Regions from separate parts of the Homo sapiens genome. Here region 2 is linked to region 1. The links come from fine-mapping of genetic effects on plasma protein levels. A gene starts in region 1. The other region holds a variant in brackets. All regions are shown on one strand. Distances are between the middles of the regions.

Evidence for each region. PIP is the posterior inclusion probability: the model's chance that the variant is causal. Protein levels are from the aptamer-based SomaScan assay of Sun 2018.
Region 2: its variant is fine-mapped to the plasma level of the SLAMF7 protein (Sun 2018, PIP 0.95).

What each region holds. Positions count from the first base shown.
Region 1 is chr1:160,736,372-160,741,754 of GRCh38, reverse strand. SLAMF7 (SLAM family member 7) reads right to left here and starts at 2,508. Exons shown (of 7, transcript NM_021181.5): 1 at 2,399-2,508. The coding sequence starts at 2,453. It overlaps LOC124904440 (a long non-coding RNA gene), which reads left to right and starts at 2,596. Exons shown (of 2, transcript XR_007066687.1): 1 at 2,596-2,672.
Region 2 is chr1:160,751,023-160,756,405 of GRCh38, reverse strand. It overlaps SLAMF7 (SLAM family member 7), which reads right to left. Exons shown (of 7, transcript NM_021181.5): 5 at 4,958-5,061; 6 at 4,158-4,220; 7 at 1,585-3,300. The coding sequence ends at 3,229. Among named protein-coding and RNA genes, the nearest start is that of SLAMF7, 14 kb to the right of the region's middle. RefSeq lists an enhancer at 865-914 and a silencer at 4,584-4,643. The variant A/C (reference allele first, on the strand shown) is at 2,748.

The sequences.
Region 1 (5,383 bases):
CTTTGGAGGCTGTGGCAGTGCCTCAGTGTATTTCTTGGGAGCTCAGGAGGAGGTTTAAGGGGTGAGCGTAGGATAGGAGGCTATGGGACTTGCTTCCGTTAGGCTTCAACTCTATACATTGGAGTCATTTATTTGTTTTTTTCTGTGTAAAATTTCATTCCATAAAAGGAAACCATGGATTTAAAAAAAAAGGCAAAAAAAACCCAAAGTGGTTTGAAATCTATTGCACTTTACTCAAGTCCCCCTTAACGAATGTACTCACGAAAGAGCAGTGTAATTCAATGCCACACAAGGCAGCCACAGACAGAGGCTTGAAAGTTTCCCGCTTCACCACACACCTTTCCCATCACTCTAGCCCTAACCGACCACATTCACATTTAGGTTGCTCACCACTCTGCTCCTCACTCATCTCCTGCCCCCTCTTCCTTGTTTCTTCTGGTTCTTTTCAACACTCTCCCAATTCCCCTCACCCACTTTTTTGTTTTCTTTTTATTGATTGTCTCCTTGACACTACTGTATCATCAAATCATTGGCAGATTACTGTGCCCATTTTTCAGATGAGAATACTGAGGCCATGAGAACTGCTTCATGGACCCTCTGAGTTTAGCCAGGGTGGCCCCCTGTTGGTACACCCATATCCCAGAAACAGAGCTACCCGTTCTTCTCGGGCCTTTCCAGTTTCTACCTCAGATTTATGTACCTGGAGAGGGAAGAAACCCCAACTGGTACTCCCTGAGGAAGATTCAGCTCAAATGCACATGTAGTGAGCATCTCTTTGGTGCCAGGTCCAGTGATAGACGGCTTGTTATGATTAAAAGAGCACTAGCTTTCTAGCTTTCTAAACTCAATCTCTGGCTACCTTATAAATGCTGTGTTATCTTGCCCAAGAAGCGTGATCTCTCTGCTGAGCCTAAGTTTCCTCAACTGTAAAACAGGGATAATGATATCTGTCTTACAGACTCATGAGGAGGTGGTATGAAAAACACCTGCGATGTAGTAACTTAATAAATGGTGATTATTTTAATAATTATTTTGCATTTGATATGTCATTTAAAATGTCACAATAATTCTGCAACTTAGATTTCATTCTCTGTTACACACCTGAGAAGAGCAAGGCTCAGAAGGGAAGAGTAATTTGCCTACAATAATACAGCTACTAAGTCAAACCAAGGATGCGCTTGTCCAGTGCCAGGATTTGTTCCACTGCCCTGCCCACTGGAAGTTCCAGGACAATCTCTGTCTCCTTTCAGCCTCAGGAGGTACACTACACAGGCTGCCTCTGGAGGAGGGCAGAGGGGGACCTGCATGGCAGTTTTTCATACTTGTGCTCTTTCGCTGACTGATTTCAGATGGACACCTGTAGCTTTCAAAGTCTCTATAATTTTCCCCAACCCCTCCACCTTATCTCCCTCAAGTTCTATTTCTGCTCATCATTTCCGTTCAGGGAGTTTTTTTTTTGTTTTTTTTTTTTAAAGTGAGGGCCTATTCCAGAACCACCTGGTTAGACCCAGGTACCTCTCAAAAATACAAACTTCTGATGAATTCAAAGTGGGTAAGAGTCTGCTGATGCTGACCACTTAGCGATGCAGGGGAAAATATTGGGGGCACCAGCTGCCTGCGTGGTCTTGGGCAGATCACTCCAGGCAGGCTCAGATACACATAATGAAGCAGTTATGTGAAGTCCTTATAGGGGGACCTCATGGTAGTACTCCATGAGATTGATGACAGAAGAGATATTTCTCACTTATAGGGCTCCTGATCCTTTCTGAGAGCCCTTAGGATAGAAAAATCTTCAAAGACTAGAATACCAGTGACAGGTGGAGAACTGTCCTCTGTCCTCCATGGGATTAAACATAAAGTGCCTATGGTATGAGTTGGTTCTCTAAGTAGAGACTGATTACATTGCTTGAGTAAGGAAAGAAAATTCAAGTGATTCTTTCCATTTATATTACTGTTATGCATAACCAATTTTATAAATACATTTATAAGTAAATAAATACATACCTGTATAGTATCATCTTGTTCTTAAAGTTGCCCTCAAAAGGAGAGAAGGCTAGAAGATAAAGTTTCTGAGGCCCAGGAAAACTTTAACATTCCTTATCTAACTCATGGCAGAACCTGGATTAGAAAAATGGTCTCTGATACCCAGCACCACTTCTTTCAGCTCCTTCATCCCTGGGACAGTCAACAGGGGAGTCAGTTCCCAGAGCCATTTTTCCCCCTCTCTCTAGTCTCTTCCTGACCTGAGAATCAGAGATCAGAGATTGATAAAAAGCAAATGTTAGATGAGAACACAGAGCCTCCCGAGTTGAGCCAGAGGCCCAGAGTGGAACAAGAAACCTGGAACTATTCAGGATGGGGTAGACAGGAGAGTGGAAGAGAATCCGGCCGGACTCACCTGTGAGCTGCCAAAGGATATAGATGAGGGTGAGGCATGTTGGGGAACCAGCCATATTGCTCTCTGGAAGTCAGCCACTGAAATGAAGCCACTTCCCTCTTAGGTATTACTCAGACCTCTTCCCCAGCTGATATTTAAAGAAGCAGGAGGGGTCACGCCGCAGACATGTGAGATTGAGTAATTGCTAAATTATTTTCAGAGTGAATAGAGCATTTTACCTTGCCACCAGCAATCTATGAGAGATCTATTTGCTCCCCATCTTCATCAGCATTTGGTATATTCCCATTTTATATTTTAGCTGTTTTAATAGGTGCTGTAGTGATACCTCATTGTGGCTTTAATTTGCATTTCCCTAAAGCCTAATAATGTTGAACATCTTTTCATGTGCTTATTTGCCATCTATATATCCATATCCTCCTTGGTGAAATGTCTATTTATGTCTTTTGTCCATTTTATAATCAGATTCTTTATTTTTTTTACTGTTGAGCTTTGACAATTCCTTATATGTTCCAAGTATAAGAGTCATTTGTCAGATATGTGGTTTACAAATATTTTCTCTTGGTCTGTAGCCTGTCTTTTCATCTTCTTAACGGGGTCTTTGGCAGAGCAAAAATTTTAATTTTGATGAAATTCAACTTATCAGTTTTTTTTCTACCCACACTAGGGTCCAAAGGTTTTCTCCTGAAAGTTTTATAGTTTTATGTTTTACATTTAAATGTATGATCCTGTTTTAATGTAAGGTGTGAAGTTTAGGTTGAGATTCACCTAAATATATTGTCTATATTCATTGAGAACCATATCAGGTAATATGGTTGACAGTTTTTTTTTGCTTTCGACACTTGAAAAGTGTCATGACACTCCTCCCCTCCATGGTTTCCAGTGAGAAATCAGCCATCATTTAAATTGTTTTCCCTATAGGTAATGTGTCATTTTTCTCTAGCTGTTTTAAAAGTTTTTTGTTTGCCTTTGGTTTTCAGAAGTATGATTACAATGTGCGTGTTTTTTTTTCTTCTGCCTGTGGGTGTTCAATTGTTCTACTACCATGTGATGGAAAAGATGATCTTTCCTACATTGAATTACTTTTGTATCTTTATCAAAAATCAGCACTTATACTTGTGTGGGTATATTCTGGAGCTATCTATTCTATTTAACTGACTTACATAATGTAATTATTTATATATCAGAGCTTAAGTTTGCCATGTTATTATTTTCTCTTTGTTCTTCTGGGCTTTTGTTTGTTTATTTTGTTCCTCTGTTTCACTTTCCTGGCCATCCTGTGTGTTACTGGAATATTTTTTATAATTCCATTTTGATTTATCTATAATGTATCTTTTTGAAGAGTTTTTTTACTGGTTGCTGTACATATTGCATTTTACATACATAACTTTTGATCTACCTATCAGTGTTGACATTTTACCAGTTGAACTAGGTATAGAAAACTTACCTATATTAGGTTTCTTTATTAGTCTATCTTTATACTTGTCTTAAATATATTGTCTATATTCATTGAGAACCATATCGGTAAGATTATAAGTTTTGCTTCAATTGTTGAACATAATTCAGAACACTCAAGAGGAGAAGGACAATCCATTACATTTACCCATATTTTAACTCTTTTCATTGTTATTTCTTTATTTCTAATGTTTCAAGTTTCCTTCTTTTTATTTTTTTTTGGACGAAGTCTTGCTCTGTCATACAGGCTGGAGTGTAGTGGCATGATCTTGGCTCACTGCAATCTCCGCCTCCTGGGTTCAAGCGATTCTCCTGCCTCAGCCTCCTGAGTAGCTGGGACTACAGGCTCATGCCACCATGCCCACCTACTTTTTGTACTTTTAGTAGAGATCAGGTTTCGCCATGTTGGCCAGGCTAGTCTCAAACTCCTGACCTCAGGTGATCCACCAACTTTGGCCTCCCAAAGTGCTGGGATTACAGGTATGAGCCACCACACCCAGCCTTCAAGTTTTCTTCTTTAATCATTTCTTTCTGTTTCAAGATATTCTTTAGGAATTCTTTTATGATAAGCCTGCTGATAACAAATTATCTTAGTTTTCCTTCACCTGAGAATGTCTTGATTTAACCCTCATTCCTGGGTATAAAATTCTAGGTTGACAGTTTTTTTTCTTTCAACACTTGAAAAGTGTCATGACACTCCTCCCCTCCATGGTTTCCAGTGAGAAATCAGCCGTCATTTAAGTTGTTTTCCCTGTAGGTAATGTGTCATTTTTCTCTAGCTGTTTTAAAAGTTTTTTGTTTGTCTTTAGTTTTCAGAAGTGTGATTATAATGTGTCTTGGTGTGAATTTCTTTGGGTTTCTCTTATTTGTGATTCATTGAGTCTCTTGAATCTGTAGGTTTTTACCTTTTGCTAAGTTTGGGGAAATTTCATTATTTTTTGAATACTTTTTTTTCAGCCTCACATTCTCGCTTCTCTCCTAAAATTCTGATGACATGAATGTTATAAATCTTTTGTTTTTCTCCCACAGGGCTCTGAGGCTCCATTTTTTTTTTTTTTTTTTTTTTTTTTTGGCCTATTTTCACTCTGTTTTCAGATTGGGTATTTTCTATTGTTTATCTTCAAGTACACTGATTCTTTCCTTTTTCATCTCCATTTTGCAATTTTTTATTTTTTTATTTTTTCTGAGACAGAGTCTCACTCTGTTGCCCAGGCTGGAGTGCACGATCTCAGCTCACTGCAACCTCTGTCTCCTGGGCTCAAGCGATTCTCCTGCCTCAGCCTCCTAAGTAGCTGGGATTACTGGCACCCGCCACCACACCTGGCTAATTTTTATATTTTGGTAGCGACAGAGTTTTGCCATGTTGGCCAGGCTGGTCTTGTACTCTTGACCTCAGGTGATCCGCCCACCTTGGCCTCCCCAAGTGCTGGGATTGCCAGTATGAGCCACTGGCCCTGGCCTCCATTTTGCTATTAAGCTCATTAAACTCATTCAATTAGTTTTACCTTTCAGTCATTGTATTATTCAATTCTA
Region 2 (5,383 bases), 15 kb before region 1:
GTTTAAAAAACCCCAAAGTATGATTAACCCTAATTATTTATCATCTGAATGGGTTCTGAGGAGAGAGGGGAAGGCAGAACAGATGCATCCTCAGTCCCAGCATCCCCCTCTCCACGCCTCTGTCTTCACACACTGTGAAGCTCCCCTCAGCCTCCAGCAGCCCTCTCTGAGGGAAAGTCATCTTCTCCTCTGTCATTATGTGGAGGGTTTCTCCTTTCTCCCCACCCATTCTCACTCGAGGAGGTCTTTCCATCCTCCCCCACACCCTTACCATGAGGGTCTCAGACTTTCCCCTCAACCCCACGTAGTGAGTAGTGCCTCGTTTTTCTCACTGAGCACCTATTTAAAATTTCCTCTACTCTATTATGCAATACATACTTTCTCATTGAGGAATATTCAGAAAATGAATGAAAATAGGAAAAAACCAAGCCACCTAAGCTTTCACCCTCCCTAAACAACTGGTGTTACTATTTTGATGTTTTTTCTTCCAAATTTTTCCCTGTAGAGATTTTTTCTAAAACACAGCTGTAATCATATAGCACATTAAATTTGCATTCTACTTTTTATATTTGTGATGTCATAACATTTTCTAACTTGAAAACCCATAGTTGTTGTGTTGTTGTTGTTTTGTGAGTCAGAGTCTCACTCTGTTGCCCAGGCTGGAGTGCAGTAGCACAATTATAGCTCACTGCAGCCTCAACCTACCAGGCTCAAGCGACCCTCCCTCTTCAGCTCCTTCCTGAGTAGCTGGGACTACAGGCATGCACCACCATGCCTGGCTAATTTTTGTATTTTTTTGTAGAGATGGGGCTTTGCTAAGTTGCCTAGGGTGGTCTTGAACTCCTGAGGTCAAGTGATCCTCCTACTTCAGCCTCCCAAAGTGCTGGGATTACCGACATGAGCCACCACTCCTGGCCAACCCATAGTTTTTTTTAAACAATTTTTTTTTTTTTTTGAGACAGAATCTCACTCTATCATCCAGGCTGGAGTGCAGTGGTGCGATCTCGGCTCACTGCAACCTCCACCTCCCGGGTTCAAGAGATCCTCCTGCCTCAGCCTCCCAAGTAGCTGGGACCACAGGCACATGCTAAAAATTTGTTATTTTTAATTTTATTTTTGATTCAGAAGCTACATGTGTAGGTTACACAGGTATATTTCATGATGCTGAGTATAACCCATAATTCTTTTTTTGAGATGGAGTCTTGCTCTGTCGCCTAGGCTGGAGTGCAGTGGCGCGATCTTGGCTCACTGCAACCTCCCCGTCCTGGGTTCAAGCAATTCTCCTCCCTCTGCCTCCCAAGAAGCTGGGATTACAGGGGCTCACCACCATGCCCGGCTAATATTTTTTGTATTTTTAGTAGAGACGGGGTTTCATCATGTTGGCCAGGCTGTTCTTGAACTCCTGACCTCAAGTAATCCACCTGCCTCGGCCTCCCAAAGTGCTGGGATTACAGGCGTGAGCCACTGCTCCCGGCCTAACCCATAATTCTTAATGTCTATGTATGAACAGACCTTCACCTGTGGTGGTCAGTTTCTTTGGCAGTTTCCAGAATTTCACTATTGCAAATAGCAAAATAATGCATCTTTTTGTATGTGAATCTCACAATATCTGTTTTATTAAGATAGTAAAGAAGACTTTTTTACTACAATAGGGTTTTGCAGTAGGGAGAGAGATCTGGCTCAATTCCTTCACAATGCCTTTCTGAGAGAAGATAATCCTCAATCCCATTCTTGCCCAACAAGCATTTGTTATTAAGTTTTTCAACACTTTCATCACTTGGTAGGGAGGTCTCCATTCAAGATATGTGTCAGGGAACATATCAAAAGCAGCCATTCCCCTTTCCCCTTCCCCATGTTTTTCACTTAAGTATAAGAGATGGTGAGCTCTGTATTGGTAGGGATGTTCATCTTACGTGCCAGACTGACCTAGCACAGGTGTTTGTTTGTTTGTTTGTATTGGAGTTTTGCTCTCGTTGCCTAGGCCGGAGTGCAGTGGTGCCATCTCAGCTCACTGCAACCTCCACCTCCCAGGTTCAAGCGATTCTCATGCCTTGGCCTCTCGAGTAGCTGGGATTACAGGTGCACACCACCACGCTCAGCAAATTTTTGTATCTTTAGTAGAGATGGGGTTTCACCATGTTGGCCAGGCTGGTCTTGAACTCCTGACCTCAGATGACCCACCCACCTTGGCCTCCCAAAGTGCTGGGATTACAGGTGTGAGCCACCATGCCGGGCCGCATAGGTTCTTAATAAATATCTATTGAATGAATTAACCATCTTTAAAGGTTTACAAGTACCCACTGCCCCCCGTGCCCCACCAGTCTCACTGCCTGACTCCAAGTCTCCTACACTAGATTTACAATGTGACTTCAGACTCGGTCTCTTTATTGGGATGGGTTCTGGCACAGCCTTAAAACCTAGACTTTTCTTTTGCAGCACAAGTGCATAAATGAAGCCTGGCTGGAGGTCCTTGTCCTTGGGCCATGCACACTTCTGTGTCTCCATTATAGTATCTGCCAAACATGGTCAGCTACCCTGATTCTTCATCTTTGTGAACTTTGACCTTCAAGTCCTGTGGATCCACACCTGGCCCTCTGGGAATCTGTGGTCAGGCCTGCTACAACTGCTCATGAAAGTAGTTCATTCATTTGGAGCCAATTTCATGAGGGCAGACAGCATGTCTGACCAATTAGTGTAAGCTCAGCATAGTGCTGGGCACATAGTTTATAGAGCCAATTAATACATCC[A/C]TTTTTGTCAGGTGCATCTGCTTCTGCTGGACTTGTCTGTCTGTTTTGGTCTTCTTGCCCTCCTGGTAGCAAGACTCTTGGTATAATCCTGACATCCAAGCCCTGGGATGGAATGAAACTCCAGACACTGACCTGGAGCCATCATTAATACAACAGGCTGTCATTAATATGTGTGACCTTGCATTTACATTTTTATAGGAATACTTCTAAGCACTTTTTTTATGGTTTGCTGACATTCACAATCCCATTTTTGGGATGAAGTGATTAAACCTTCTGGGTTTGAGGAGATTTCTCAGCAGTGGATGGAATTATGAACTCTTAAATCTAAAGAAGCATCAGAGATAATTTATCCTGGAAAAAAGTCAACGTTCTTCATTCTTCCTTGATGTTTCTAGTCAAATCAGTGAATTCTTCTGATTGTTTTCTTTGGGCCGAGAATTGTTTTTTTTTTGAGCAGAGACTTAGGGGAGTGCACTGCTGTCTAGATAACATTCTCATAGGCAAATAGCCTTGGTGTGTCTGGCATCGTGAGCAGTGAGTGGGGATTTTCCATCTGAAGACAGACAAAAAGAAAGTAGAGTGAGGGAGGTGAGCAGGGCTCTGGATCGTCCATGGAGACCCTGACATCCAGGAAACTTTATTTCCAAGGTTACCCAACCCAAATCGGCTGGCATGCTGGCTCCCACTGTTTGATTTTAATCACCCCTAGCTTAGAGAAACTATTCTGTAAGTTTAACGCATATTTATCTTGCTGAATGCTTAATGAACTGAACTTTCCTTGTTCAGTTGTAATAATTCACTAAACCAACCTTTTCTATTACTAAGCAAACTGCTTTAATGATTCTTATCTTTTTGGATCTGTTTGGGAGAGGAAGAAAAAGGAGACAGAAAGATACCATTACTGCTGCCAACCGTACTCTGTGAAGGAATAAGCCTTAAAGCTACTGCATTAGTAGTTTAACTGAGGGGAGGGTGCAAAGCAGATGTAACATAGCTGGACCATGGGAGAAAAGTAGAGATCTCTCCCTCCTGCAGTTTCCTGGTGTCTCAGGAGAAAGCTGGACTCTCCTCTCAGCTATTCCTCTCTTCATTCCATGCACAATCTAAGCCATGGTCTTTTTCCTTGTCTGCAACTTCAGTCAGAAGGCTTTTGATTTTCTTTATTATTCCGATCTAGAACCTCTGTCCTACTCTATTTGTTCCAGATTACCCAATTCGATTCCTAAAACACAATTCTCTTCCATCCCCCATGTTCTTGTATAACCCTAAGCAAAGGGAATGGGGAACTACTAGGGTACTTTTTAATTCTAGAGAGTATGAGATACCTGGGTCCAAGAAATTTTGACCTAAACATGAAGCAGGAAAAGAAATGGAACCATTAAGATGAAGTTAAGCTCTAAAGCTTCTTACCTTTTTCGGTATTTCCACAGTGGAGTAAACCGTATTTGCTGGATCTTCCTTTAGGATTGTTCTCTTTTAAAAACAAACAACAAACAAAAGAAATCATCACCCACCTCCTGAATCACATAGACAAGGCCAGAGAGACATTCAGAATCCAGAGAGGGGAAAGCAGAGATGGGAGGAGATGTGAGAGGAAAAGGAGGGTTCTGGAACAGGGAAGGGAGGTAGGAAGTTCTCTTGTTGGTGACTGCTATTATAATAAATTTTGATAACTTTTTTCAGGAAGCCATTACATTATTTTTAAACTGTACTGTGTTAAAATGAATTTCAAAAATATTATATATATATGTGTGTGTATATATATATATATATATATATATATATATATATATATAGAGAGAGAGAGAGAGAGAGAGAGAGAGAGAGAGAGAGAGAGAGAGATCTCTAGAGAAGTCTTCTGATACCATGATTCAAACATCCTGTCAAAGTCACACTCTTCTACCCACTGCCTTATGCAAAAGGAATCTGGCCTTTTGTGTGGCCGTTATGAACTGTGGAGGGGAGCAGGTGATTTCACAGACCACAGCATGAGCATTGTGAGTCAGAACCAGGTGCTCCAGAGACCACCAGCTTCTTCTGCACAGAAGAGAATCCATGAAGACTTGGAGGAGGCACAGGTGCATTGAGTTTTAAGTCTATATATCCTCACTCCCCTCTTCATTCCCATGTTGTCCAAACCCATGGAAAAACCTCACAAGGAGAGCCTCAGAGACAGGATCAGTTCTCAGGAAAGATGAGAAGGGACTCACATTAGTGTGAGGGATTGTGTCGTACTCTGTGTTCTCTCCAGAATGGGGGCATATGTTAGGAGTTTCCCGACAAATGTCCACTCTCTTCTTCTCTTCAATGTACTCTAAAAGCAAGTTGGGAGAGAATCAAAGCCACCTCTCCAACCACTCACCACTTCCACTGGCCCACCATTTCTCCTGGATGACCCACTTAGGGTGACCAACCAGCCGAGTTTCCTTGTAATGGAAGGGTTTTCAGGATAGAGGACTTTCAGTGTTAAAACTGGGAAAATCTAAACAAATCAGGATGAATTGGCCACCCCCAACATTTCACTTCCTGATCTCTCCATCAAGGTGGTCAAAGTGGGAAGTAGAGAAAGTCAAAGACACTTTCAGAGGGGCTTCCAGGAGGGAAGGGAGATTTCAAAGTCTGCAAGTCATACCCAA